Regions from separate parts of the Homo sapiens genome. Here all the other regions are reported to be linked to region 1. The links are microRNA targets in miRTarBase. Many come from high-throughput screens and were not tested one by one. Region 1 holds a microRNA gene; each other region holds the end of a gene's coding sequence.

Region 1 (7,158 bases):
TGAGGCGAGCAGCTCATCTTCTTCATGGCACTTAACCTTTGTTGGTCAGAGATCAATCCCCAAGTCACCTAGTCCCTTCCTTTTTCAAATTGTAAAGGTCTTAATCACACAGACTTCTTGGAGAAGAAAAGTGGGTGGGAGCGTGTGAGCAGGCACTAAGCCTCCCATTGTGGCTGTTATCCAGCAGCACTGTGACTCGGACCCCGCATGTGAGCTCTGCCTTTTGGTCACTGCCGCCGCCAGCAGCCCAGGCTGACTGGTTTGACAGTGGCCATTGTGCATGTGCTTAGCTGGGGCTTTAAGCTGAGAGTTGCCTGGAAGTGTCACTTTGGAGACTAGTCACAGCTTGTAGAGTTTGGGGAGATTGAGATCCTCTCCATTTATTTTAGAGTTTGGAGTTCCAGCTTTTGAACCTGCCGTTTGAACTAATTTTCGATGGTGAATTCGTTGTCTATAAACAGCCCTCACCAACTCAGTGCTCCTTGGAGGCTCAGTTTTCGGACTTCTGTTTTTCTTTTCTTTTTTTTTTTTTTTTTTTTAATCAATTTGGGCACTTTTTTTGGTGTATCCAGAGTAATGTACATGAACGTATCCCTCATATTATCTATATATTTCTAAGCAGCCCCCGAAAAAGGCTTTGGGGCGTTCAGCTGTGTTGTCTCCTACGTTTTCTGCGCACTTTCTTTAACAACCCTCTAATGATGAACTCTCAGTGAGCCTCTGTTAGGAACGCTGAAATCTCAGCAAGCCTACGTTAGGAACGCTGATCAGAACCAGAATCCGTGTTTTCAGAGAATGAAATCATTGTTGGGGGAGGGCATGGGAGTTGCCCATCATTCATTCATCCATTTCTTCAGTAAATGCCTGCGCAGGTGCTCTGTGCCTGGTGCTTGCGAGAAGATATCAGTGAGGCACACAGGCGCTGTTCCCCAGGAGCTCACGCCCCGCATAGGGTGGCACCCTCTTTGGAAGTCCCTCAAGCTGCCTGAAGATTGTAGCCCAGTTGGCGAAGTTACTTGAGTCTGTCTGACATCTGAGCTATCAACATGCTGGGCTTCACTATAGAGAATTTTCTCTTTTTAAAAACAGGAGAAATATCTCGGTGTCATGGCTCTGTCTTTGGAAGGCTTCAGAACAGGTGTCTTCACGCCTGTTGCTGTGCATGAGTGCATTTGGCTTTGAGTCTCTGGCTGTCAGATGCTAACGTGCCTGGTTTCTCTTCCAGCTTTGCGATCGTCATCTGGGGCGTGCTCACACAGAAGAAGCCGTTTGCAGGTGAGTGGACCTGTCTTTGAGGTGTAATGTGCTTGTCTTTCCTGGAATAATGGGGGGACACCTTGTTGTCCTTTCTCTATCCTAAAACAGAGCCTGTGATCCACGCTGCCATAGGTGCTGCTCTGTGGTGTAATTTGCATGCAGGAAAAGACACAGATCTGAAGGGGCCTGTTCAATGGAATGTTTTTAGGTGCCAGCTAGTTTTTTTGTGGTAGTAAAATATATATAACATAAAATTGGTCATGTTAGCCATTTAAAGTGTATAATTCAGTGACATTAACTACACTGGCAGTGTTGAACAAGCGTTACCACTGTCTAATTCCAGAACATTCTCATCATGCTAGAAGGCAAAGCCCATGGCCATTCTGCAGTCCCTCGCCCTTCCTCCTGCTCAAGCCCCAGCAACCACTCACCTGCTTTCTGTCTCCAGGGGTTTGCCTGTGCTGGTATTTCCAGCTAATTCTTTTTTGTTTACTTTTTAAAAAAATAGTCATAAAATACACAGAACAAAACTTAGCATGTCAGCCGTGTGAAGCATACAGTTCAGGAGCATTACATGTACCCGCGTGCTTGCGCAGCCAACCTCCAGAGCTGCTCAGTGCCATGGAGTTGCTTGCAGGAGTGGCACCCCTGCCCAGCTTGAGAGCTGTGGTGTTTGCTTCCCCAGCCAGGCAGCCACCATTCCGAACACCATCCTCAAAGTTGTCACACCTTGACTTACTTATCATAAAAATCCAGGACTTTTTAGCTTTGTTGGACAGATTCCCTTTTCCTCTAAAGACATTTCTGGGCTACTCATGATATTTTGTGGTGTGACCGAAAATGTCTAAAAATGAAGATGAGAGTCAAGGCCTAGCCCCTTGTTAGTCGGGGCTCAGACTAGGAGCCGATGTATGGGAAAGTGCTGGGGTGAGAAGAGATCTTCCAGCATCGCAAGATCAAGTATCTTGGCAGCTTTAAAAGAATGTCAGTAGAAAGCACAGAACGCGTCCTGCCAGGCCTCTGCTGGCCGGTGTCCGTCTGTGTTGTCTGACCGCCTGTCGCCTTTCTTGCCTTCTGTACGTTCTCCCGCACAGTGGCCTACAGCCCGAAGGCTTGTGAAATGAGGCAGTGTCTGATAGATGTGACACCCGAAGCTAGGCGCAGGGGACAGGTCAAGGCTCAAGCCCTTGTGCTTTATTGCTGAATATGCCTAGTGTTCCCTTATTGGAACGCTAATCATATGGGAATTATTCGTGTCCTACTGTTCAAGGTCATCGCCAAGGTCTGATTTTTCAAATTCAAAAAATTGCAACCTCAGGCAAAAATGGGTAGGAGGGGGTTCAAGGTGCAGGAGAACAAGGCCTCTCCCCAGCTTTTCCAGTCTGTGCTTGGCAGCAGGAAACATTCCGGGCGTTTACTTCAGTTTGCTTCCATTTTATTTAGAGGAGCTGTTGGTTTTGAAGTCTGAATAATCATGGAAATAGCCTGCTAAACACTTAACGATATTTATTGCACAAGATTTAATGGGAAAGTGGAGCAAAACATTGTATGGAATCCTGGCAGCCGTGGGTGATTCTCGGCTGATTTTCCACACCTGCTGAGGCACATGGCCTCTCCAAAGAGCTGCCATTCCATGCGTGGGTGTGTTTGGATCTGGAGGGCAGAGAGGGCTGTTGGGAACAAGAACCTTGAGGGTTCCAGGCTAAGCAGAAAAAAGAACTTGGCCCACTGGATGTCACCCTGGGCCCTTCCCAGTCAGGGTAGAAGTTGTGGCAATAATAATAATAAGCTAGAGCCCATGCATGCTAGTGAAGGCAGTTGGAAAGGACAGGTGCGGCCCCACATGGTGAATTGAGGGGAAAGAGCCCTTCCACACATCCCAGCCCTGGTGCACCGGCAGGGGAGGCCAGCTGGGGACCTGAGCTTGGGATTGGAGTTGGAACTGAGGAAGACTTCTTCGCCATTGTAGAGAGAGTTGGGTCTCTGTGGATGTAGGACGCTGTGGCTCCTCCATGGTGCGTGAGCCTCATTCCCTTTGCTGGCTTGGGCTGTTGATGGAATGAGCCTCATAAGATATTGTTCTCCTTTGAACCTCATCTTCCTTTGGATGGGATGCCTAGAAAGATCTGCTCTGTGACCAAACACACTGACTCCTTCTGGTAGATCAGAACCCAGGGAAAGAGGTCGATTTCAAAACCAGGAAACTAGAGAGCATGGCGCACCATGAGGGTGAGGGTTACAGGAAGCTCTGCCTTTGAAACGGAGTGGGGGAGCCGTCTCCCTGGGGTGGTGTGGGGATGGCCCCATTGTGGCCCCCGGCGAGTGTGTCGTTTCCTCCCAAGGGTGAGATGCTGCCACCCAGCCCTGCAGAGCCCCTGACTCGCATCCTTCCCTTGGCAGATGAGAAGAACATCCTGCACATCATGGTGAAGGTGGTGAAGGGCCACCGCCCCGAGCTGCCGCCCGTGTGCAGAGCCCGGCCGCGCGCCTGCAGCCACCTGATACGCCTCATGCAGCGGTGCTGGCAGGGGGATCCGCGAGTTAGGCCCACCTTCCAAGGTGAGCACCCCGGGGTCTCCCCGCCACATTCTGTGGGTGTCACAGGAGACAGAGGTGACAGACAGGACAGGGTGAGGGACCAGGCCTGGGTGAGAAACAAGGCGTGTAACAGGTGGGCCGAAATGAGCCCTGCACAGATAGGTTGGACCCAGCACCTGCCTGCGGCCTCTGGTACTCACGGCTCGGCCACGGCAGCTGGAACTGAGTTGCCTCCAACCATCCGCCCCCTGCTCCCCACCAGGGTTGGGCTTGCCACCCAGAGGAGTCTGTATGGGAGCCTGAAGTTCAGGTGCAGCCATGCTCTTCCCGGGGACTTACCTGGCCGGTGGCCGGCGGCGTCGCCCTTCTCTTGAGGAGTTGACTTCCTGGGACAGATGTGTCTCTGGCATAGGAAAGTCACCCTGATGAGATGGAAACTGCTGCATTTAAAGCTTACGGCAGGAAACGGGCTGAATGGGGAGCTCATCCGCCAGGTGCTGGCAGCTCTGCTCCCTGTGACTGGCAGGTGGCGCTCCCCCGGGGAAGGCTTCCGCCTTGAGTCTGGTGAGGCCTTCAAATGATTACCGATGGGGGGGCCTGGGTTTGGCCAGCAAATTGTCCATGTAGGGCCCCTGGGCTTGCCTGGTGAGCTCAGGCTGGGCCGAGGCGTGTGAGAAATCCCCCAGCTCGTGGGGGCCCTGCGTTTATATGGAACGCGTGTGTACGCAGAAGTCATCATCCGAGTGACATGTCCCCTTTCTTCCCCACAAGAAATTACTTCTGAAACCGAGGACCTGTGTGAAAAGCCTGATGACGAAGTGAAAGAAACTGCTCATGATCTGGACGTGAAAAGCCCCCCGGAGCCCAGGAGCGAGGTAACGAGTCCTTCCCACAGGGGTCTTTTGTCTCCTCGGCTTCCAGGCAGGAGTTTCCAAACCACTCCTCTTTGCAGAGTCCCCCGCCGCCCGGACCACTCTCCCTCTCTTCTGAGCCCATCCCGCACCCAACTCCATTAGAAGTGTAGGTCCCATGGGGGCTCAGGTCCACCTGCCCGACTGCATCCCCGCCCCACCTCCTGTCTGATTCTGCGTGAGTGGCGGAAGGGCTTCCCTGACACTAAATAGCCACTCATTGGATGTGTGTGGACCACGGGGATCAGAAGGCCCAGCCCCGGCCGGGGAGGGAGAGCTGGTGTCTGAGTGTCTTTGCACCCCTGGCTCGGGGATCCAGTTCCTTTATAGCTGCCCATAAATGGTCTGCACTCTGATGAGTGCCACCCAGGTGATTTCAGATGTGATAAGAAGCTCCAAGTAGCAGGGCTGGCTAAATGCCTTTTCGGGTGATGAGGCTGGAGCAGACCTGTGAGGCCCAGCTGATAAGTGAGCTTTATAACGTGTTATCTGGTGTTGGGCGATTAATCCCAGGCTGTTGGTGTGAGCTCAGGAGATCAGGAAATATGTATATCAGGAATATGCGCCCACTGCCTCAACATAAAGTGCATGTGTGCCAGTGAGCCCGGGAGCAAAGGTGCCCGGGGGTTGCTAGTACAGAGGCAGACCTGGGCCCTGATAAGGGAAAGAAGGCAACCAACATGTAGGGGTGGCTCGGTACACCCAGCAACAGTGCGGGACCTCGAGCCGTCCCACAAAGGGTGGGGAGTTGGGGCAAACAGGTGTGCCTAAGGGAAGAAGCGTGAAATCCCGTCAGATTCCACTTACCCACCAGAAACCTGCTGCCCCTGCAGTCCATGAAGCGAGACTCTTTAAAAGGCCCCATCGGTGTATGTCGGATTGGATCACCCCTCGTCCCTGTAGCCGGGTCCTTCCCCTTTCCCTCGTCCCCACACAGCCCCCAGGCCAGCCCCACGTGGCTCCGCGGGGAGGTCGCAGTTGTGGCCACGTGTGGGGGTCCTGCCCAGTTCCTGTCTGTCCTCTCGTTTCCTGCCAACGCTGGCCTGTGCTGGGCAGCTGTGTCCCGCCATACATGCCTCACATTCTGCAGCTTGACACCGCCTGCCTTTTGTCTGGGTGACGCTCTGTGCAGTGTTACTGAGCAGATGGTATCCAGAGCTGCATGAGGCTGGATTTTGCACTTTTATGAAGGCTATCTTTCCTTAAGATGTCTCCGTGCTGGGTGGGGCCAGCGCAAGTCTTTGTAGCTCCAAGTCTTTGAGCTCCCTGGCGCTGTGCGGGTGCAGAGTCTGAGCATCCCAAGTGCTGTGCGGGTGCAGGGTCTGAGCTGCCCGGCACTGTGCGGGCGCGGGGTCTGAGCTCCGCGGCGCTGTGTGGACATGGCGTCTGAGCTCCCTAGTGCTGTGCCGATGCGGGGTCTGAGCTCGGTGACCAATAGGTTATCTGCATTGCTTCCAGGGTCCGTCCTTTCCTCCCCCATCTCCCTCCCGTGGCCCACCTTGCTCTTCTGTGTTTGTGTCATGGGCGGGCCATGCGGTCTATGGCAGGGTCTTCACCCACCCCCTCTTCTGCATCTTCGCAGGTGGTGCCTGCGAGGCTCAAGCGGGCCTCTGCCCCCACCTTCGATAACGACTACAGCCTCTCCGAGCTGCTCTCACAGCTGGACTCTGGAGTTTCCCAGGCTGTCGAGGGCCCCGAGGAGCTCAGCCGCAGCTCCTCTGAGTCCAAGCTGCCATCGTCCGGCAGTGGGAAGAGGCTCTCGGGGGTGTCCTCGGTGGACTCCGCCTTCTCTTCCAGAGGATCACTGTCGCTGTCCTTTGAGCGGGAACCTTCAACCAGCGGTGAGTGGGGACGCCTCTGTGTCCCGAGAGATGCTGGGCTTGGCGGGACAGTGGACTGGACTCAGTGAGAAGCTAAACGGAATCAAGGGGACAGTTTCTTGACCCAGCAAGAATTCTTCTTTGTGTTCTCTCTGTCTTAAGTAATTAATTTTGTGTGTTGGGCATTTGGCTCCGTCTTATGTCACTTAGCATGTGTGGGGAACAGGCCACATCACCAGTCTGTGCAGCAGTCTTGCCTGTGCCAGTGCCATGGGTGGAGGCTGACCTCAGGTCTACAGATTGGAAACCCCCTCCAGTGCAGTGAGCCTGGCGAGTAGCCGAGCCCCACTCCCTGGCGGGCCTCCTGTCTCGGGCGTGGCAGTCCCGCACCCTCTGCTCAGACGCTGCTGGGTACACACCCACGCCTTCGCATATGTGGGCTCCCCGTTCACGGTAGTCCAGGCCTAGTAATGTGTTGGTTATCCTTGGAGGTTTTACCACCAGGCCACCTTTGCAAACCACCTGATAGGGAGGAGCACTTCTCTTTTAGCTAATCTCATCTTTTTATGTTAATTTTGATGGCTTTTGTTTCTGGAAGGTGCTTTTTTTCCTATCCCTGCCCCAGGGTGCTG
Region 2 (7,158 bases), not on the chromosome of region 1:
TCCTCCCATCAAGAGGTAGGGTCTTTTTCTTTGGCTAGTAGCAAACATGACACAGAGTTTGAAACATGCCTGTGCCTTAGGACAGGGCCCATTCTTGCAGCCTGAGACCACAGTGCAGAGAAGCTGGGCTGGCCTCCAGAGGTCCAGGCAACAGCCCTGCAAGCCCCACAGGAACTGCCAGACATGTGAATGAGGCAGTCTGGCTGCCAGGTGACTGCAGAACATGTGTGATCCCAGGCAAGACCAGCAGAAGAACCACCAGTTAAATCTGGCCCGAACTGCTGAGCCACAGAATTGGGAACAAATAGAATGGTGTATTTCACACTACTAAATTTTGGGGTGGTTTGTTAAGCAGTGATAAATAACTGATATAATCATGCAGGTTGAAAAACATGTGCATATTTGAAGTGGCCACAGGCTGCTAGTTTGAGACCCTCTGCTTTAGATAAATGGGCTTAAACAACCTCCAAGGGTCCCCAGGCTCCAGCATACTGCAGTAGCAGCAGAATTATTGCCTGTGTATGAGGTGCTAGCACAGACTGGGCCAGACCAAAGGGGACATGTTGATAGGAAACATGCTGGTAGCAAACCATGTGGACTGATGCCTACGGACCGGGCAGCTGATAGGAAACCTCAGCATATGTCAGCATAGACAGATGGCATTGTGGCATTATATAAACTATTCTGGAATTCATATGCAAACCTAGGAGGAAGGTAGGTGGAGGCCCTAGCTTTATTGAGGCTAAGTTTTCACTATTCCTATAACATGCAGACTCTGAAACTGAATTCGAAGAAAATATCTCCTGTGTATCTAAGTTTATGAGTACCTTGGGCCTTCAATCTCTATTGATCTTGGAAGTTAGCAGTTGGTCATTAGATAAACAAATGGGAGCTAATAAAAGACAAAGGGAAATCTTTACTGCCTTATTTTTCAACAAACTTTCTATGTTACTTCCATTGAACCAGTTGTGAAGGCAGATTTAAGAAGTGTTTCAGTTCTTTCCTAAGGTATGAGAGACTTCTGAAGGGGTAAGAAAGTGTTAACAGTTCCTTGACTGGATTAAAATTACTTTGAGGGGCTTGAAAATATTTAAAGTTGAATACATCTTTCACTAAACTTTAGGGATTCCTTCTAAAAGGAGAGAATACACACAGGGGATATTAAAATATTATTTTATTATTTAATTTTTTTTTTGAGACAGGTTCTCTGTCATCCAGGCTGGAGTGCAGTGGCACAAAAATGGCTCACTGAAGCCTCAACCTCCTGGGCTAAAGCGATCCTCCCATCTCAGCCTCCTGAGTAGCTGGGACTACAGGCACACACCACCACACCCGGCTACTTTAAAAATTTTTTAGTAGAGATGAGGTCTCGTCATGTTGCCCAGGCTGAACTTGAACTCCTAGGCTCAAGCAATCCTCCCACTTCAGCCTCCCAAAGTGCTGGGATTACAGACGTGAACTCCTGCACCTGACTTAATGTTTTTTTTTAGAGACAGAGTCTTGCTGTGTCATCCAAGCTGGAGTGCAGTGGCATCATCACAGCTCACTGCAGCCTTTAACTCCCAGGCATAAGCCATCCTCTGGCCTCAGCCTCCCAAAGTATTGGAATTACAGGCATAAGCCATCATGTCCTGCTGGGATTGGAGAATAAATAACTTACACAGCTACAGATAAGTTCTGATTCTATGTCTAATGGCTTTCCATTTTAATTAATGTAATTATACATTCATTTATTTAACAATTTTTGAAAACCATCACAACATAGTGTAAGTGCTCTGACAGGAAAGAGCCCAGGGATCTAGGGGAAGCACTAGTGGGCACGTAGCCCAGACGAGCAGAGCCAGGGAGGGCTTCCCAGAGAAGACTATGTCTGAGCCAAGTCCCATAGAGTAAGAGTTGGATAGAAAGTGGAAAACATTACATCCAGGAATTGCTACAAGGTAATGTGAAGCAGGGTGTGACAGGTCTACAGAGTAATCACTCCAAAACGGAGTTAGGCATCAGAGGACTCCAGGACAGATGTCTCCGAGAAAAAGATGGAACGGAGAGATTACCTGATATACTTGATGGTACTGAGCGAGGTTTTACACCTTGGTTGGAGTTTAGGGGTTCCATTCTTTGTCATTAGTTATTGATGACCTCGGTAAAGCTTAGTGATTAGCCAGCTGAGAAAACACAGTACTAGAGAGGGGGCTGTGTGTAAGATGGCAAGGCACTGGTTAGAAATAAATATATTTGGATTAAAAACAGAACCCAGGGGAAAAACAGTGGCAGTAATAAAAATGATAGCAATACATGAAAGACAAATACTTGTTTTGCCAACAGAAGACATGACAATCATCTCATGTTTAATTTGGCATATGTAGCTTTGAGTGGGGAGGAGTGGATCAGTTCATTAAGGTGAGATCAGGTTGAGGCAGTCAAAGATGCGCTTTGATGAATTCTGCTATAATGGCACTCATAAAGTACAGAGTTCACAATCTATATTCCCTACTTTTTGATGAGTTTATTTGTCTTTCTTAAAGGCTAGATCCTGACTTATCTGCATGAGAAAAATCTGGCTTGTCTGTTAAAAATACAAAATCCTGGCCTTATCCTATACATATAGAAAGGGGAGAGTAAGGGAAGAGAGAGGAAATCGTGGAATCTGCATTTTCAGCAAGCACTTCAGGGGATTCTTACACACTTCAGAGTTTGAAAGCCCTCCATGTGAGTCCTTAATGGAGGTGCAGATTAATTGTAACTGGATGTCCAATTCCTTTACTATGCTATGGAGCAGCCCCAGCTGACCCTAACATCAGATATTTTGTGTAGGCAAACATGTTGTGAAATATTTGAGACACAGGGTTAGACTTCCTGCGACCCTTCCTCTCCCACCACAGTGATTTAGCTCAGTCTTGGGACTGCGGAGAAATGAATTTCTAATTTCCTTCTCCTCCTTTCCCCAAAACAGACTCCTCCTTTGAATTTTAACATATATTAAACCAATGCAGACACCCTGTTAGACCTTTAAACTTCTTAAAATATGATGTCACCTGTGCTTTAAAAAATTCAATTAAGCCACCATCTAGTAACCCATACAAGGTCCTACCTATGGTGGGTGCTACTGCAAACTATTGAAATGAGGACTCAGAAACTCTGATTACAAGGAGCAATTAGGAGCTCTTCACCTCAGTCTGATGTCCCTGCACATCATTTCCATGAAGTCCATGTCAGAATGAACAGAAAAACAAGTGTCAGGGCACCTGGATTATATCATGAATGCCTCAAGTTTGAGGAATTCTAAGAACCCGAGCTAAAGCTAATATGGATCAACTCTTTTGGGAATAGCTTTTCTTAGAGCACTGTAGCGGAGAAGAGCTTTCTTTCTTCACCCATCACTAGGTTCACAAATGAGGCACCTATAACGAAAGACAGATTATTGAGAAAAGCACACACATTTATTTACTGTAAGTTTTACATGACAGGAATCTTCAGAAATGAAGACAAAAAAGAAATAGGAAAACTTGTGTATTTTTATGTACAGTCTTATGCAGAAGTATAATCAGAGGACAAAAGGACATAATCTAATGGTAATAAACTGTGGAGAACTTAGCAAGTCCTATTTGTCCAGATTCTTCTTGGTGTCTCTGTATCTGTGAGGATAAAGGGTACCTATGGAATGAAGGTTTTATGATCTACTTCAGGGAACAGTCACTTAGGGTTTATGGCCTGCTTCAGGGGAGAAGGGGTAAGGGGAAGGTATGAGAAACCTTGCTTCTGCAGTTTTCTCAAATAACAGGGTGCAATATTTTGGGGTTATGTGTCCTGAATCCCATCAACGTTAAGATGGAGAGACCAGCCCAAATCTTTAGTTGGATTCCAGCTAAGTCTTATACACCTAAGGGACAGAGGAGTAGTCATATATATGCCTTCATATCTGGTCACCTTCACAATGAGTCAGAAAATTGGTCAGACACCGAAATCACAACAGAAAAAAAAAATCTTTATTTCTACCAACTTGTCCCATCAAGAGAGTAAGATATACATATGTAAAGAGATGGAGTCCCACTCTGTCATCAGGCTGCTGGAAGGCAGTGGTGCAATCATGAATCACTGCAGCCTCAAACTCCCGAGCTCAAGTGATCCTCCTGCCTCAGTCTCCTAGAGTGCTGGGATTATAGGCGTGAGCCAGCACCTGGCCAATTATACTTTTAAAAAAATATTTTGACATTTATACTTGTTTATTATCTAAAAGCATTTTTATGAATAGTTCTCAAGAAGTCCTAGCAAAAATTGTGCTTCATTCTTTTTTGAATAACTCTAGCTAATAACATTCATTTGCGCAAAAAGCCTTATTATGCTGCTGCTAATAATTGCAACAAATTTACCTTAGATTATTAAAAACTATTTTTTCTTAGAAAACTATAATTCAAGGAATCAAGCTTGGCTGCAGAAAGTAATGGAGTTGAGGAATACTGTTAATTTTTCCAGATTGACCCTGGAGTCATCAGCAATAGTTTACTTTTATTATTTATTTATATATTTATATATTTATTTATTTATTTTCTTTTAGTTGGAGTCTCACTCTGTCACCTAGGCTGGAGTGCAGTGACACGATCTTGACTCACTGCAACCTCCACCTCCCAGGTTCAAGTGATTCTCCTGCCTCAGCCTCCCAAGTAGCTGGGATTACAGGCGCGTGCCACCAGGCCTGGCTAATTTTTGTATTTTTAGTAGAGACAGGGTTTCCCTATGTTGGCCAGGCTGGTCTCAAACTCCTGATATCAAGTGATCGACCCGCCTCCCAAAGTGTTGGGATTAAAGGTGTGAGCCACCGCGCCTGGCCTATTTTTATTTTTTAAATAAGATAGAAAATAAAAAAATCAGGATGAATTTTTTTAAAATTAAAAGAAAGAGGAAGAAAGAAGGAAGGAAGATTTATTTCTTGAAGGAGAAATACAAAGAGCTTAATTGGGTTAGGTCTCTGGGTAGCATTTGGTTTCTACTTCCCAACTGTACAGCCTATGCAACAACATACTTGTGACCAATTCTACATACAGATCATGATTTGCATAGCTTTCCTTTGTGTCAAAAAGAAACCAGGGCTATGTCCTTTCAAAGAGGAAGTAAAGAAAGGCTGGAGAACAGTCTAGCTGATGAAAGCTGCTTTAAAAATCCTTTTCCAAATTCCCAAGACTGCCTTTCTAAAAGGACTCTCTAACATTCTTATTTTAATATCCTCTTGCAGCATACCTTGATTTCCAAGATACTTCTGAAACCTAATTAAAATGGAACAGAAAGTGAATTTGGTGTTTTCCACCTATTTTTTAAATGAGAAATGAAAACTGTATATTTATTATTGTTATTTAAAAGTATGGAGCAAAATCAGGAGTGCAGAGACCTGCAGCAGAGCCAGAGAGAGAATACGGGTGATAGAGTGTTGAATAAATTGTTTTTAGAAATCAAATTCATATACTCAGGAAGAACTGGGGCAGAGAAGATTAAGCAAGCAAAAAGATAGGTTAAAAAAAGTAATGATGAACAATTACGGACACACACACACACACACACCATCCCCAAAAAGCTTTGGAGTGATTATGAAATCCAAGAATCCTAGTTCATAATTCATGTAAATGTGTTGCTGTGGAACTTATTTTTACTTCTCTCCATAAATACATTGTTGACACAGAATAATATTCTTAGTTTTCTGATTATAGCTAAGGGACATTTCAGGAGTTGACTTTTCCTTAAAAAAACAAATAGAGAGGAGGCTGTAAATGTCTCTCACTGCCCTTGTGCAGGTCTTAGATTTTACCCTACCTATTTCCAAACAGAAAACCTAGACTGTATATAGCAGCAACCTTAAGAGTGAGGGAGCTGTCAATTTTTCACATCATTTTACCAGAATTCTTTTTTTCTGGTATTGCTGTTCTCTATGTATTATTAATTTGTATTTATATTTAACTCTGGCTATTAGTCCGCCTCTTCCAGTCACTGAGCCATTTGCAAAGGAGAGAAGAGGGAGACAAGGGTTGCTATTATTAGGCATTCCTGTGTGTGACAATGGTGGAGACAATTAAATAACACCATTTTGCATCTTTGAAAATGACAGAGATTGTTTGGGGTAGACAACTCAGGGCTGGTTAACAAGACCGTTCCCCTCAAGAAGGTAAAACAATGGAGATACGTTTTTGAAGTACTTAATTAAGCTTTCAGCAATGAGTGTGGGAAAATTACAGACCCATAAAAACCCTCCAGTTCTAGGCAAGAGTAAATTTTCTCTGCAGTACACTGTCATTGCTCATTTACTGCATCATTTTGACAACATCTCATATTTACACAAGGCTTTTACATAATCTATACACAGGGACAGAAAGGTAAGGAACACAGAGAACAGGGACAAAGTTTGGACCTCCCGTATTGTCACTTCCTTTCATTTTTCCATTAAAGGGTAAGGCTGAAGGGTAGCATTTTAAGATGATTTTGTTAAAAGGCTGTGATGGTAATAATTGAACACAGCAAGATGAGCTGTGAAAAACTGCCACTGCTTGCTCACTCTTCCAAAGGATGAGTGTAATTCAGTCATAATGAAGGCTCTTTAATGTTCCTGCCCCAAATCTTTTCCGATCAGGAAAGCCTGGAATCTGTAGGCAAGAAAGATAATTGCATTAAGTCTCAAGCAATAAAAGTTCAAATACTAATAGTAATTTTTCCCTTCTTTTCCATTTCTGTATGTCAGCCTGCTGTTTCTTAAAAAAACAACTTTCTGAGGTTTTACTCAGAAAACCACAGATTAAATAATAAAAATAAATCTTACCCAAATGGAAAACATTTCCCAACAAATTGGTGATAGTGTCATCTAAATCAGAAAGAATGAAGGTAAATCTCATAATACCTACTAGACTTTTATAGAAATTATTTGTATTGTGACAGACCCTGAACGTATACTCTTGGAGTCCCAAGCAAATTATTTTCTTCTTCTATTTTATAATGTAATCTTATTCCTAGATTATATTTGTTTCCTAGATCCTTATTTTCCCTTTGTTCTGATTTTCTCCTTTTGTATTTAACAGGATAGAAGGAAATCAGTTGCTTGTGCCTATAAAGGGCTTTCCCCAACTTTTTAAAACTACTTCTGAACTTAAATTTGGAAATCACCTATCAAAATTTAAGAAT
Region 3 (7,000 bases), not on the chromosome of region 1:
CCTTGCCCTTTTCTGTGCCCTCTGACCAGTGCCTGCCCCAAAGGATTCAAATGCTGTGGTGACAGCTGCTGCCAGGAGAACGAGCTCTTCCCTGGCCCCGTGAGGTGAGCCCAGGGCCAGCTCCTTTGGGTGCAGTCCTTGGAGGGGCCTGGTCCTGTGTGGACAAGGCCAGGCACCTGCCGAGGGGGCAGTGTGGGCGGCGGGAGCGGGGAGATGTAGGGAGTCCCCAGGGTGGCCTGGGGACTCAGGGTACTCTTGGTGGTCCCCACCCCAGGATCTTCGTCATCATCTTCCTGGTCATCCTGTCCGTCTTTTGCATCTGTGGCCTGGCTAAGTGCTTCTGTCGCAACTGCAGAGAGCCGGAGCCAGACAGCCCAGTGGATTGCCGGGGGCCCCTGGAACTGCCCTCCATCATCCCCCCAGAGAGGGTCAGAGTATCCCTTTCTGCGCCCCCACCCCCCTACAGTGAGGTGGGTGTCTCATCCCCATCCCCACCTTGCCTCTGGCCGGCTGTGCAGCAGAGACAGTGGAGGGCCCTTCGATCCTGGAGGGCACTCTGCACCCAGCATTGGGTCACCCCTCTCCCTGGTAACCATGCCTCAGCTGGGATGGGGGAGTGGTGGCCAGGGCCAGGGCCCAGAAGACTGAATTCTCTCTTTTCCCTGCAGGTGATTCTGAAGCCCAGCCTGGGCCCAACTCCCACAGAGCCACCCCCTCCCTACAGCTTCAGGCCTGAAGAATATACCGGGGATCAGAGGGGCATTGACAACCCGGCCTTCTGAGTCACCTCCTGCCTGGAATCTTGCCATCAGCAACCTCCTCCCCAGTGCCTCCTGGATCAAGCTAGAGACTGCTGGCACCCCAGGAATGTCCCTGCCCATCCTGCCGTGTCTCTGTTCATTCTTGGATTTAACTTATTACTTTTTCTGCTTCTGTTTCCACCCCAGCTGCCTCTCTTGTCCTGAGGGTTAGGCTGGAGTGACAGTTTCCGCCCACCCCCCAGCCCAAGAAAGAGGCTGCCGGAAAGAAAATGCTGACCATTGGAGGTGCCCAACAGTAGAATGGGCTACTGTGAGGGGTAGTAAGAGCCCCATTTCTGGAGGTATGCAAATCTTGACTGGACAGCCAGCTCTGAGATTTTATCAGGGCACTTCTATACCTGTGGGACATTGGACTGGATGAGCCCTGAGCCAGCTTCCACTCCTACCTGAATAGAGAACTCACTGCACCCACCCACAACACATGATAAACACATGTCCTCACTGAATGTTACTGATTGCGGCTGAGGGCCTGCCTCTGGCTGTGTGGGGAGGTGGGTGGAGAGGTGAGCCCAGGCACTGCTGAGGGGTGCGGTGATGGGGTCGCTGCGCCGCAATCCCACCACTGATGAGCCACCTGGGAGGTCTGGGAGGACAGTCCATCCATGGGCCGCCCTCGGAGAGAGGCTTGTTCTAGATGTATTGGCTGTCTGTTTTTTGATGTCTCTGTGTGCCAAACAGCCTGGAAATGGGGTACGCGTGTCCCTTGTGTGGGTTTCCCAATCCCTTCCGCCCAAGGCTTTCCTGGGACACATGGAGCCCAGCTCTCTGGCTGTCTTACCATGAGAAGTTGGTAAGTTGGCTGTGAGGGGGTTGGATCCAGGAAGCAGCCCTGGGACAGCCCATTCTGCTGTTGATAGCAGGAAACCACCTGCTGGGAGACAATGGGGGTGGGGAAAAGCCCAGGAGAGCAGTGGGTGGGGCTGGGCATCCGTGGAGTGGGGCTTTAGGAGACCTTGAACGGCCCCACCCTGGAATCTCCTACAGGAAGGTGAGGAGGTGGCAGGTTCCACCCTTCTCTACCAGCCCCGCTCGCTCGTGGGAGTTAACCCCCTAGGGGAGAAGAGTCTTCACTGGGGTTCGACCCATGGGGGCCTGGCATAGTCATGCAGAATGGGGCGGGACAATGCCAATGCCTTGGGACTCAGACAGGGCTGAGTGCCTCCACCCTGATTTTTGCCTCTGCACTGCGCCCCCACAGCCCACTCAATGCCAGCCTCCTTCTCCAGGCAGAGAGCCCCATGTCAATGCTGGCCAAAGCTCTCAGGAGGATTGGAGGTAGAACTGGCCCTGGTATGCCAACAGGGGTGCCTCTTTTAGTGCTCTCCCAATAATGCTCATCCTGGGGGCATCAGGACGCAGGCAGGTGGCAGAGCTGGGGGCAGCTTGATGGCACAGGCAGCCCCAAAGATGCCAGGAACAGGGACTGTCCGGGTGTGGGTTCCCAGTGAGATAGGGCCCTGGAAGGAGTGCAGCAGTTACTGACAATATAGTGCCAGGGTTGGCCATAGGAGAATGAGCCCAAGCGTAAGTGGAAGTTTCCCTTTACTTTCAGGGATTGGTCAGGGGTGGCAGAAAACATGTGGGTTCTTTGTGTAGATGTGGCTAGTTCCAATTAGAGAAGTCCTGCAGCTGATGTTGCCCTCACCGTGATAGCAGGAGGATGTTGAGAAATGGGCTTGGGAGACCTGGAGGAGAAGTTACCCTCGGCCCAGACGTTGCCTTCCTTTCATCACAGGGCCTTTAACTCCTCCTAGGGAGTAGCAGAGTGGCCCTAGGGAAAGTGGCCATCCTGAAACCTAGTGTTGCTGTGACCTGGTGACAGAAATGGAAACCTCTGTGGCTCTTCTGGTCATCCTTGGTGGGAGTGGGAATGGTGTCACCTTTCTAGAGGGCCATCTGGCACCATGTAATCACGCCACAGATCTTTACGAAGCTCCTGCTATGTAGGAAACACTATGCCTGGCACTGGGTATCCATTAAAATGTAAAATGCACGTGACCTGGCAATTCCACTTCTAGAAATGAGCCTTCAGAAGTGCTCATACAAAAGAGCTCAATAAGTATCATGCACTAATTCATTGTGCCACCAGAGCTCCCTATGCAGCCTTTTAAAAGAATAAATAGGATCTGTAGCACCAACCCTGCAAAGCATCCATCACTTATTGTTACAGAGAAAAGGCAAGTTGCGGAACTGCCTATGATCTCAGTTTGTAAGGATATAACCCACACATATTTTATTTTATATATGTATATTTTTTCTTTGCAAATATGTAGATAAGATCTAGAAGGATGTAAGTCAATCACTCACCACACTTCCAATAGTTGTTGGCCCCAAGAGTGGGATGTAGGTAGCAAATTGCAAGCGGGTCTTCTTCCTTTGTATGCTTTGGCACTGTGTGTTTTTTACAATCAGCAAGCATTGCTTTTGTAAATTTAGAGATTTGTTTACGGGAAACTGTAGGCAGCTTTAGAAGTTTATGAAGATTTGCCTTGTGAACTTTGATCAATGGCAACTGATAAATTATCAGCCCTGGTATGTGGAAGAGAATACAAGGACTTTAGACTGTGGTACCCACCTGACATGGATGTGACCCAGGGGACAGACACATGATGGGAAAGCCTGGATGCCTGCCAGACATACATGAAGCCCACATCTCAGACCTATGCAGGACTTATGAGGTGTATAATGAATGACAGAAACAGTGAGCTGGCTAGTTGGGTGAATGAGCAGTTTCACAGTGACGGAGAATTTCATCCCTCGTGGCTGGTTTAGTTGCTCAAACCCAATGAGTGAATAATGAAAGATGGAATGAATGAATGAAGATTAAATGGGTGCATGAATGAATGAATGAATGAATGAATGAAGAGATCTGCCACCAGATATTTGTAAAGAAACACAGTCTAGTTAACATCAAGGAGATGTTCCTCGTGGCTGTGCAGTTGAATTTCTATCTGCAGGGACTCCCCAGAGGACAGGGAAATGCAGGAAAGGCTGTAGGGTGGGGGGCATGTTGAAGCAGGAAGGCCTTAAGGCACTTGCTCCAGGGATGCAGGAGGGGAGGAGAAAGGGGCTGCTGCTGAGGGAAGTGAGGAGAGGGATAAACACCAGCAGGAATCTTACCTCACCTTCCAGCTGAGATGCAGGACTCCAGCTTCTGACATTTCGCCTTCTGCATCCAACATCTCCAGGCGTTGGTGTGCCCATCTGTACAGTGAAGAGCGTGGCCCCTTCTGGCTCTGGTAGGACGTAGCTCTGAATCCAAAGTTGGGAAGGGGCCCAACACGGTAGCTCATGCCTGTAATCCCAGCACTTTGAGAGGCTGAGGTGGGTAAATCACTTGAGGTCAGGAATTCGAGACCAGCCTGGCCAACATGGTGAAATCCTGTCTACTAAAAGCACAAAAATTAGCTGGGCGTGGTGGTGGGCACCTGTAATCCCAGCTACTTGGGAGGGTAAGGCACGAGAATCGCTTGAACCTGGGTGGCGGAGGTTGCAGTGAGCTGAGATCACGCCACTGTACTCCAGCCTGGGTGACAGAGCGAGACTCCGTCTCAAAACAAATAAACAAACAAACAAAAAACAAAGTTGGGAAGGGCCAAGTAAGAATATTCAGAGAAGCTCCTTAACACCAACAGGCTTTCCTCCACTCTACCTTGGCCACAGTCTCAAGTGGACATACCTTATCTTGTCAGCTCTGATCACCTCAAGCCTCCCACTCTGAACATCACCTCCTGTACTTCCAGCTCAGGTAGGTCCTATGTCACCACCACACCATGCCAGCAATTCTCTGAGCCCACCCAGCCCTCTGAACCAGCAGTCTTTGCCTGTTGGCAGCGCCATCACCATGTCCTTAAACCATCCTTACAGTCACTACCCTGCATCCTTTACCCCTTTTCCCCATTCACTGTGCTCACCCAGAGAAACTCCAAACTCCAAACTCCAGTTGGATCCAACTATGGCTCAAGAACCAGCACCCCTGTGTGACTAGACTCATTTCCAAATCAAAACCACACGTTTCGCGCAGGCCCTCGGTTCCTCCAATGTGCTTTCACAGCTTCACTTCCCCGCTCTTGAAATGACTCATTTCAAATCTCCCACACCCCCAACCTCAATTTCAGCTGGCAATGCCACCACACGCTTCAGAGAAAGAAAGGATGCACCCACACCAGCACACCTCACCTCCATGCCCCACACTTGCCACCCAGTATCCACGCGTGCCCCCTTCCCCCGCCAGAGCACAGTGGAAGCTGCATCGTGCTCCTCCAGCCTGCACTGGGCCCCAGCCCTCCTGCTCCTTAGGGCCTGGCCCTGCAGTTGTCTCTGCAGAGCCTTTCTCCCCTTCCCGGATCATTATCATCCGCTTATAACATGCCCACCCTTCCTCCTTTAGAAACTCTCCCTGGAGGCCCCCAGCCCTTCTGGCATCTGCTGTTCCACCTCCCCCCTCCCCACTTTCATTCTGTGCTGCTCCAAGCAGCCGTTTGTCCCCACCGTTACAGGAGATGACTCTAGTCCAGATCATCAGTGACCTACATGTCACCAAGGCCAAAGGTCCCTTCCCCTGCCTATCTCTCAGTGGCATTTGACACGCTTGGCCATGGCCTCCTTACCTGTTCTTCCAATGTCTCCGACTCCACCTTCCCCTGGTTTCCCTCCTCCACATGGCCTTCTCCTCAGGAGCCTTCACTTCCCCCTCCTCCTCCGCCCTCTCTCAGTGATGGCTGCCCCGGAGGTCTGTCTTGGGGTCTCCGGTCTTCATCTTTGTTCATTCCCATAGTGGCTGTCATCCTGATCTGCGGCTTCACAGACCATCTCTGGTCTGATGAATCTCAAGACTTAATCTCCCGCCGAGACTTCTCCCTGGGACTCAGATTCACATATTTAACTACCTCACGCCTCCTCTTGGATGCCTAATGAGCATCTCCCAGCCAAAAGCAGGCTCGAATTTCCCTCCACCACCCCCTCAAATCCAGTCCTTCCCAAGGTCTCCTATCATAAATAGATGTCGCTCCCCATTCGCCCAGCTGTGTAGGCTAAAACACTAAGAAATTATTGTGATTTCTTTTTCCCTCACTCCATCATCCTGACAGCGCTGCCTGCAAAATAGACCTAGGCCCACTTATTCCCATTTCACGGTTACAGCCCTCGACCAAGCCACCTTCATCCCTAGCCCAGCCTATCCTAATGAACTACCTGATTTCTGCCTCCAGGCTTGTCTCCATCTCACCCCCTGCAGTTTATCCCACACACTGCACTTAGGGAGATCTTTCTAAAGCGCAAACAAGACTTGTTATTCCCGTGCTTAAAATCCTCCAATGAGGCAGAGGTTGCAGTGAGCTGAGATCGTGCCACTGCACTCCAGCCTGGGTGACACAGCGAGACTCCGTCTCAAAAAAAAAATCCTCCAATGGGCTGGGCGCCATGTCTCACTCCTGTAATACCAGCACTTTGGGAGGCCAAGGTGGGAGGGAAGATCGATTGAGCCCAGGAGTTCGAGACCAGCCTGGGCAACATAGAGAGACCTCTGTCTCTACAAAAAAATACAAAAAGTATGTTTGTATTTTTTGGCTTCACTCATGGTGGTGTGAGTCTGTGGTCCCAGCTATCCGATGGCAGGGCGGGGTAGTGCGGAGGTGGGGCAGGGGGAGACTGAGGTGGGACGATTGCTTAAGAGATCAAGAGGTTGAAGCTGCAGTGAGCTGTGATCGCACCACTGTACTCCAGCCTGGGTGACAGAGCGAGACCCTATTCAAAAAAAAATTTTTTTTAAAGTTGCCCATTGGAATAAACTTCAAACCCCTGACCGTAGCTGGCAGGACTTAGGCAGTGTGTGGCCCCTCCCTTGCCCTCAAGCGTCTTCTCCTACTTCTCCTCCCTTCTCACTGCGTGGCAGCCACAGTTGCCTTCTCTCTGGGACTTGACTATCCCAAATCTTGGCCTGGCCCAGGGCCTTTGGTGGCTTTTCTGCTTGGAACTTCCCTCCCTCCCAATGCCCTCCTCCCAGTCTTCACAGGGCTGCTGTATTTTCACCATTCAGGTTCCCAGAGGGGTCAGCATATGCAAAGGCCTGAGGAGGGAAGGAGCTTGGGGGCTGGAGAAACTTAAACGAGACCCTTCCTTCCTTCAAAACCCCCTAAGATTCTGCAGGGTTCGGTGGCATGTACCTGTAGTCCCAGCTG
Region 4 (7,158 bases), not on the chromosome of region 1:
AGAACCAGTGAAAGAAATCTGACACATCCAAAAGCCAGAGTATTTTACCTTCAAGTGACCACACTATCTCCCCAGCAATGTTCTTAATGAGTCTGAAATGACTGAAATGATAGACATAGAATTCAGAATCTGGATGGCAACAAAGATCACGGAGATTCAGGAGAAACTCGAAACCCAGTCCAAGGAATGTAGGAAATCCAATAAAATGATTCAAGATCTGAAAGATAAAATAATCATTTTAAGAGAGAATCAAACTGATCTGTTAGAGCTGAAAAACTGCAAAAATTTCATAATACAAGCGGAAGTATTAACATCAGAATAGATTAAGCTGAGAAAAGAATCTCAGAGCTCAAAGACCAGTTCTCTGAATCAACCCAATCAGACAAAAATTTTTAAAAAAAGAATTAAAAAAAATGACAAAACCCTCCAACAAATATGGGATTATATAAAGAGACCAAACCTACGGCCCACTGGAATCCTGGAAAAAGAGAGACGCAGCAACTTATAAAACATATTTGAGGATATCATCCACAAAAATTTCCCCAACCTTGCTAGAGAGGTTGACATATAAATTCAGGAAATTCAGAGAACCCCAGGAAGATACTGTACAAGATTACCATCCCCCAGACACAGAGTCATTAGATTTTCTAAGGTTCACATGAAAGAAAAAATATTCAATGCAGCTAAAAGGAAGAGGCAGGTCATGTACAAAGGGAACCCCATCAGGCTAACAGAAGAGCTTTTAGCAGAAATCATATAAGCCAAAGACATTCGGGGCCTATATTCAGCATTCTTAAAGAAAACAAATTTCAGCCAAGATTTTCATACCCTGCCAAACTAAGCTTCATAAACGAAGGATAAATAAAATCCCTTTCAGACAAACAAAAACTGAAAAAAATTCATTACCACCGGACCTGACTTATAAGAGGTCCTTAAGTGAGTGCCAAACACAGAAGTGAAAGAATGTTACATGACACCACAGAAAGTGGTGTTAAGTGGTTAAGTGTATAACCCACTGACATTATGAAGCAACTATACAATCACGTCTACATAACAACCAGCTAACAACATAATGACAGGATCAAATTCTCACATCTCAATATTGACATATCAATAATGCTTTCGCTGGCTGTCCCTTTTGCATAGAGTCCAGCATGAGACGCAGAGGAGACTGGGATGCTTAATGTAGCCAGATGGGGCTGATGTAGCTCCTGAGTTAAAAATACATCTTTCTTTGGGACAGAAGGAACCACGTAATTTACTCTAGTCCAGTTTGGTCCTAGCATCCAGGAAAGTAAAGATGCAATGTACCAGAATACCCATATCAAAAAGTTAGAAAGATCCCAAATTAGCAACTTAACATTACACCTAGAGGAATTAGAAAAACAAGAGCAAGTCAACCCCAAAGCTAGCAGAATAAAACAAATAACCAAAATCAGAGCTGAAATGAATAAAATTGAGATACGAAAATTCCTACAAAAGATCAGTATACCCCAAAGTTGGTTCTTTGAAAGAACAAATAAGATTGATAGATCACTAGCTAGTCTAATAAAAAAGAGGGAACCAAAAGCTTTCATCATTTAAGAGTTTTTAATTTCTCTTTCATGAAAGGTAAATTTACATACAGTAAAATACATAGATTTTATTTGCGTGATTCAATGTGTTTTGATTCATAACCACATAATTACTATCCCAGTTAAGACATAGACTATTCCTAGGACTGGCTGGGCGCAGTGGCTCACGCCTGTAATCCCAGCACTTTGGGATGCAGAGGTGGTTGGATCACAGGGTCAAGAGATCAAGACCATCCTGGCCAACATGGTGGTCTTGGCCAACATGGTGGTCATCTCTATTAAAAATACAAAAATTAGCTGGGCATGGTGGCCCGTGCCTGTAATCCCAGCTACTCAGGAGGCTGAGGCAGGAGAATCGCTTGAACCCTGGAGGCGGAGGTTGCAGTGAGCCACTGCACTCCAGCCCGGCAACAGAGCTAGACTCCTTCTCAAAAAAAAAAAAAAAAAAAAAAAAAAAGAAAAGAAAGAAATAAAATTCCCAGGACCCCAGAAAGTTCCCCTGTGTGCCATTCACGTTAATCCCCAAATCCCACTCCCAACCTGAGGCAGTCACTGTTATGAATTTCTGTCTTTGTAGATTAGTTTGGCCTGTTCTTGAACTTCATATAAGTGAAACTACAGAGCATGTATTCTTTTGCATCTGGCTTCTTTGACTCAAGATGTTTTCAAAATTTATTCAAGCTATTGCATGTATTATATATTGTTATTATATATTGATGAGTATTATGCCGTTACATGGAAACATGTAATCAATTTTAAATATTAATTACTTAGATTTTTATATTATTTTCTCACTAAATGTAGGACATTTCAAGTGCTCAGTAGCCACATGTGGCTAGTGGTTACCATATCAAACAGCACAGTTGTACAAACATTATAGTCTCCGCTTTTACTTTTAGGTTTATGATTCGCTTCAGGCTAATTTTTTGCGTGTGATGTGAGAAACAGCTCAACACTCGTTTTTACCAACCCTAATTTCACTTGTTCCGCTAACATTTATTTTTTATTTATTTATTTATTTTCAAGATGGGGTCTCACTCTGTCGCCAGGCTGGAGTACAGTGGCACAATCTTGGCTCACTGCAACCTCTGCCTCCTGGGTTCAAGCAATTCTGCTTCAGCCTCCCTAGTACCTGGGATTACAGTTGCCTGCCACCACACCCAGCTAATTTTTTTTTTTTTTTTTTGTATTTTTGGTAGAGATGGTGTTTCACCATGTTATCCAGGCTGGTCTTGAACTCCTGACCTCAAGTGATCCACCCACCTCAGCCTCCCAAAGTGCTGGGATTACAGGTGTGAGCCACCGCGCCCGACCACCTACCAACATTTATTAAAAGTCTTTCCTGTCCCAATTGAATAGACTTGATGCTATTCAGTTGACTGTATATGTGTGGGTCCATTTGTAGACTGTACTCTAGTCCACACCACACTCTCTGTATTACTCTAGTGTTAAAGTCTGCCTTCTCTAAATGTGTTTCTTATCACAATGATTTGGTTATTCTAGGTTTTTATGTGTTTATATAAATTTCAGAACCAACTTATCAATTTATAACTATATATGTATATATATAAACTTATATTTACAATATACATACATATACACTCATCTATACTTATGTACATACATATACACATATACATATATTTTATATATATATAGGAATTTTGACAGGGATTACCTAAATCAATATGCAGACAACTGACATTTTAACCATTTTTGCCTTCTAATCCATGAACGTGATATATTTCTTCCTTCATTTGGGCCTTCCTTAAGTCTCTCAAAAATGTTCTATATTCATCAGTACAGAAGCATTCCGTGTTATCTTAGTTCATTTGTGTTGCTATAGAGTAATATCTGAGGCTGGGTAATTTATAAAGAAAAGAGGTTTATACAGCTTGTAGCTGCAGTGAACGCCAAGAATGAAGCACTCAGACAATTCCAGCTGAGCGGGATGCGGCGGCAGCAGCATCTCTGAAAGAGTGCCGCCCCAGAATCCGTCCGCCAAGTGTTTCTCGAAAGGGTTTGTTAAACCAAAATGTCCACCAGATGGCCTTTTGCGGTCGGGTCATGAGACACATATGGCCTGGTAAAAACACTCAGACTACAGTCTCAGGAGGCTGCTTTCCGCGCTCCTTATCACACATTCCGTTCCTTGCCCTGTTTTCAGGGTCAAGGAGTTTCAATCTCATGCACAAACAACACGCACACGGTGCCTCAGTATTTTTCCATGCCTCGACCTCAAATGCCTTGTACATAAGCTTGAATATGTTGCCGTGCACCCCCCACAGTTTATTTGGCTCACAGTTCTGCACCACATAGAAAATGCTTGGCACCAGCCTTTGCTTCTGGTGAGGGTCTCAGGAAGCTTCCACTCATGGTGGAAGGCAAAAGGAAGTCTGCATGTGCAGACAATACGGCAAGAGAGGAAGCACGGGCTGGGGAGGGGAGGTGCCAATGTCTTTTTAACACCCAGCTCTTGGAGAAACTCTCACAGGAAGTAACAGAGTGAGAACTCTCTCATTACCTTGAAGACAGCACCAAGCCATTCATGAGGGATCCAATCCCGGGACCTGAACACCTCCCATTTGGCCCCACCGCCAACACTGGGCATCAAATATCAACAGGAGGCTTGGCAGGGCCAAACAAACCATATCCAAACCATAGCATAGGATTTTTTTTTTTTTTTTTTGACACAGACTCTTGCTCTGTCGCCCAGGCTAGAGTGCAATGGCACAATCTCAGCTCACTGCAACCTCCGCCTCCCGGGTTCAAGCAATTCTCCTGCCTCAGCCTCCCAAGTAGCAAGGACTACAGGCATACGCCACCTCGCCTGGCTAATTTTTGTATTTTTAGTAGACATGGGGTTTCACCATGTTGGCCAGGCTGGTCTTGAACCCCTGACCTGAAGTGATTTGCCCTCCTCAGCCTCCCAAAGTGTTGGGATGACAGGCGTGAGCCACCACGCCCAGCTCGGATATGATTTTTTACTTATTTATTTATTTATTTATTTATTTTTTTTGAGACGGAGTCTCGCTCTGTCTCCCAGGCTGGAGTGCAGTGGCACGATCTCAGCTCACTGCAAGCTCCACCACCCGGGTTCACGCCATTCTCCTGCCTCAGCCTCCCGAGTAGCTGGGACTACAGGCACCCGCCACCACGCCCGGCTAATTTTTGTATTTTTAGTAGAGACAGGGTTTCACCATGTTAGCCAGGATGGTCTCGATCTCCTGACCTCGTGATCTGCCCACCTCGGCCTCCCAAAGTGCTGGAATTACAGGCGTGAGACACTGTGCCCGGCCATGATTTTTAAAAAATTGTTCCTTGGTACTTTACGGTTTTTTGATGCTGCCGTAAATGGGCAAGAGTCTAGATTTAGGGAAGTTTTAGTGCTTCCTCCAGTCCTTTGATTTCTTCCTATCAGGGCTACTGCATAAAGTGATTGTTGTGAGATGTCCCTTTCCTCGTTCGGGTGCTGCATGTAGGTAAATTTTTTTGGATCATGTTGTTTAATTTGCCAGATGATCCTGTGCCCCTTTGGAAACGTTTCTCATTCCCTGGGTTTGGCTTTAGAGGAGGGAGATCATGAGCTGCTGCTTCACTCTCTCCCTCAGCTCAACCCAGAAGTCCAATCCTTGAACTCCATTTTCAAAGACAGAGACAGAAGAAGGCCCAGGAGGAGGGCGTTCTAGGAGGAGGGTCCCCAGTGTGCAAGGACTGAGGTATGAACCAACAGGGCATGTTGCAAATGATTTGGAAAAGACCAGAGGGACCAGTGGGTTAAGTGGTGAAGATGGAGGAGTGGACTGAAGTGGGAGAGTGATGTCACGAAGAGGATGTGATGGGAGGTTCAGGATCCAGGAGCCATGGATGGGCTGTGAGCAGTGCGGAGAGAGCTCAGTGTGTCCTAAAGATTCCCACTGGACTGTGCACAATACGTAGACTGCAGAGAGTAAGGCGGCCTAGCAGTCACAGGGTGGGCAGATGAGGCTGAAGAGGTGGGCAGGATCCAGATGCTACCTAGACCTGATTTGCAGGCTGAGGTTATTTCCTGGAAAGTTGCAGAATCGCTATTTTGCAGGCAAGTGACACAGACATATAAGTACTAGTTGCCACCAGAATCAGGAGAGGTTCCCAGCAGGACCTTTGTGTTCAAAGCACAGCGATCCATCAGTGCTCGGCATACACCTGTGCCAGGAGCTCTAACGGGATGTGACTCCTGGAATGGTGACCACAACCTTGCAAGTAGGGCTTCTCATTCCTGTTTTACAGAGCAGGAAACCAAGGTACAGAGAGGTAGGAATTTGTCTGTCTTTTAGTTAAAAAAATAAAAGGGAGGGCACAGTGTGGATTCAGGTTTGAGATACTTTGACTCTAAAGCCTGTGTGCTTTTCACTCTGCACATAATTCATAGTGTTATCATAGCTCATCACGTTGAGGGCTGTTAATTCTACAAGAATCAGCCTCTGACTTCTCCCTTGCCTGGAGGGGCTGTGATCCCTCAATCAGGGTGAGTCTCTGCAGTTTCTCATCTGTGGATCTTGATCTCCGAGTACTCGGTGTCAGTGGCCTCCTGTCCCCGCGAGTCCCAAGGCTTCACCATCTGGAAGCTGAGGGATGCATACTGGAGCTCTCCTTCCCCCACTGAGGAGCGGGCAGAAGCTGGGGGAGGCTGGTCTGGGGGACTGTCTTCTGCCCAAGGTTCAGTCAGGGGCCCCTGAGACATGGGAGAGAGAAGTGAGTCAGAGCAGACAGTGAGGATGGGGCGCGGTGGCTCACATCTGTAATCCCAGCTCTTCAGGAGGCTGAGGTAGGCGGATCACCTGAGGTCAGGAGTTTGAGACCAGCCTGGCCAACATGGTGAAACCCTGTCTCTACTAAAAATACAAAATTAGCCAGGTGTGGTGGTGTGCACCTTTAATCCCAGCTACTCAGGAGGCTGAGGCAGGAGAATCGCTTGAACCTAGGAGGCAGAGGTTGCAGTAAGCCAAGATTGTGCCACTGCACTACATCCTGGGTGACAGAGCGAGACTCCATCTCAAAAAACAAAAACAAACAAACGAAAAAATGCACTTGAGGCAACAGCCTCACTCACTTCACCCTTGTTCTTGCCCTAGTGGAGAGGTAGGTGCTTAAAAGGTCAGAATGTGGCCGGTCACAGTGGCTCACGCCTGTAATCCCAGCACTTCGGGAAGCCAAGGTGGGCAGATCACAAGGTCAGGAGACTGAGACCATCCTGGCTAACACAGTGAAACCCCGTCTCTACTAAAAATACAAAAAAATTAGCTGGGCGTGGTGGCAGGCGCCTGTAGTCCCAGCTACTCCGGAGGCTGAGGCAGGAGAATGGCTTGAACCCGGAAGGTGGAAGTTGCAGTGAGCAGAGATCGCACCACTGCACTCCAGCCTGGGCGACAGAGCAAGACTCTGTCTCAAAAACAACAACAACAAAAAAAAAAAAAAACAAAAAAAGTCAGAATGTGCACTGCTGCAGGCTATAGAGTTTGGGATTTTTACTCTAGATCAGGGGTTGTCAAACTACAGTATCTGAGTCATATCCAGCCCACTCTTTATGTTTGTGAATAGTTTT

What was found. The annotated mature microRNA hsa-miR-6814-5p reads UCCCAAGGGUGAGAUGCUGCCA and lies in region 1 at 3,593-3,614, shown strand. An mRNA with a match to its seed (bases 2 to 7 or 8) in the 3' UTR can be bound and repressed. Matches are read on the target gene's strand: a 7mer-m8 pairs with bases 2 to 8, a 7mer-A1 pairs with bases 2 to 7 and ends in A, and an 8mer does both.
Region 2: miRTarBase lists RABL3 as a target of hsa-miR-6814-5p. Seed matches in the 3' UTR shown: 7mer-A1 at 5,171-5,177 and 7mer-A1 at 4,656-4,662.
Region 3: the mRNA of TMEM92 is a reported target of hsa-miR-6814-5p. Seed matches in the 3' UTR shown: 8mer at 1,954-1,961 and 7mer-A1 at 2,497-2,503.
Region 4: the mRNA of SIGLEC9 is a reported target of hsa-miR-6814-5p. The part of its 3' UTR that is shown has no 7-base or 8-base seed match.

What each region holds. Positions count from the first base shown.
Region 1 is chr21:41,743,271-41,750,428 of GRCh38, reverse strand. MIR6814 (microRNA 6814) reads left to right here and starts at 3,588; the gene lies at 3,588-3,657. It overlaps RIPK4 (receptor interacting serine/threonine kinase 4), which reads left to right. Exons shown (of 8, transcript NM_020639.3): 4 at 1,226-1,275; 5 at 3,658-3,816; 6 at 4,567-4,670; 7 at 6,289-6,547.
Region 2 is chr3:120,683,263-120,690,420 of GRCh38, forward strand. RABL3 (RAB, member of RAS oncogene family like 3) reads right to left here. Exons shown (of 8, transcript NM_173825.5): 8 at 1,676-6,626. The coding sequence ends at 6,561. Among named protein-coding and RNA genes, the nearest start is that of HGD, 4.6 kb to the left of the region's middle.
Region 3 is chr17:50,278,527-50,285,526 of GRCh38, forward strand. TMEM92 (transmembrane protein 92) reads left to right here. Exons shown (of 5, transcript NM_153229.3): 3 at 30-104; 4 at 275-470; 5 at 669-2,959. The coding sequence ends at 782. TMEM92-AS1 (TMEM92 antisense RNA 1) reads right to left here. Exons shown (of 4, transcript NR_125805.1): 2 at 5,432-5,681; 3 at 3,942-4,025; 4 at 3,053-3,350. Among named protein-coding and RNA genes, the nearest start is that of TMEM92-AS1, 5.8 kb to the right of the region's middle. RefSeq lists a silencer at 5,116-5,165.
Region 4 is chr19:51,129,021-51,136,178 of GRCh38, reverse strand. SIGLEC9 (sialic acid binding Ig like lectin 9) reads right to left here. Exons shown (of 7, transcript NM_014441.3): 7 at 5,869-6,288. The coding sequence ends at 6,100. Among named protein-coding and RNA genes, the nearest start is that of SIGLEC9, 7.7 kb to the right of the region's middle.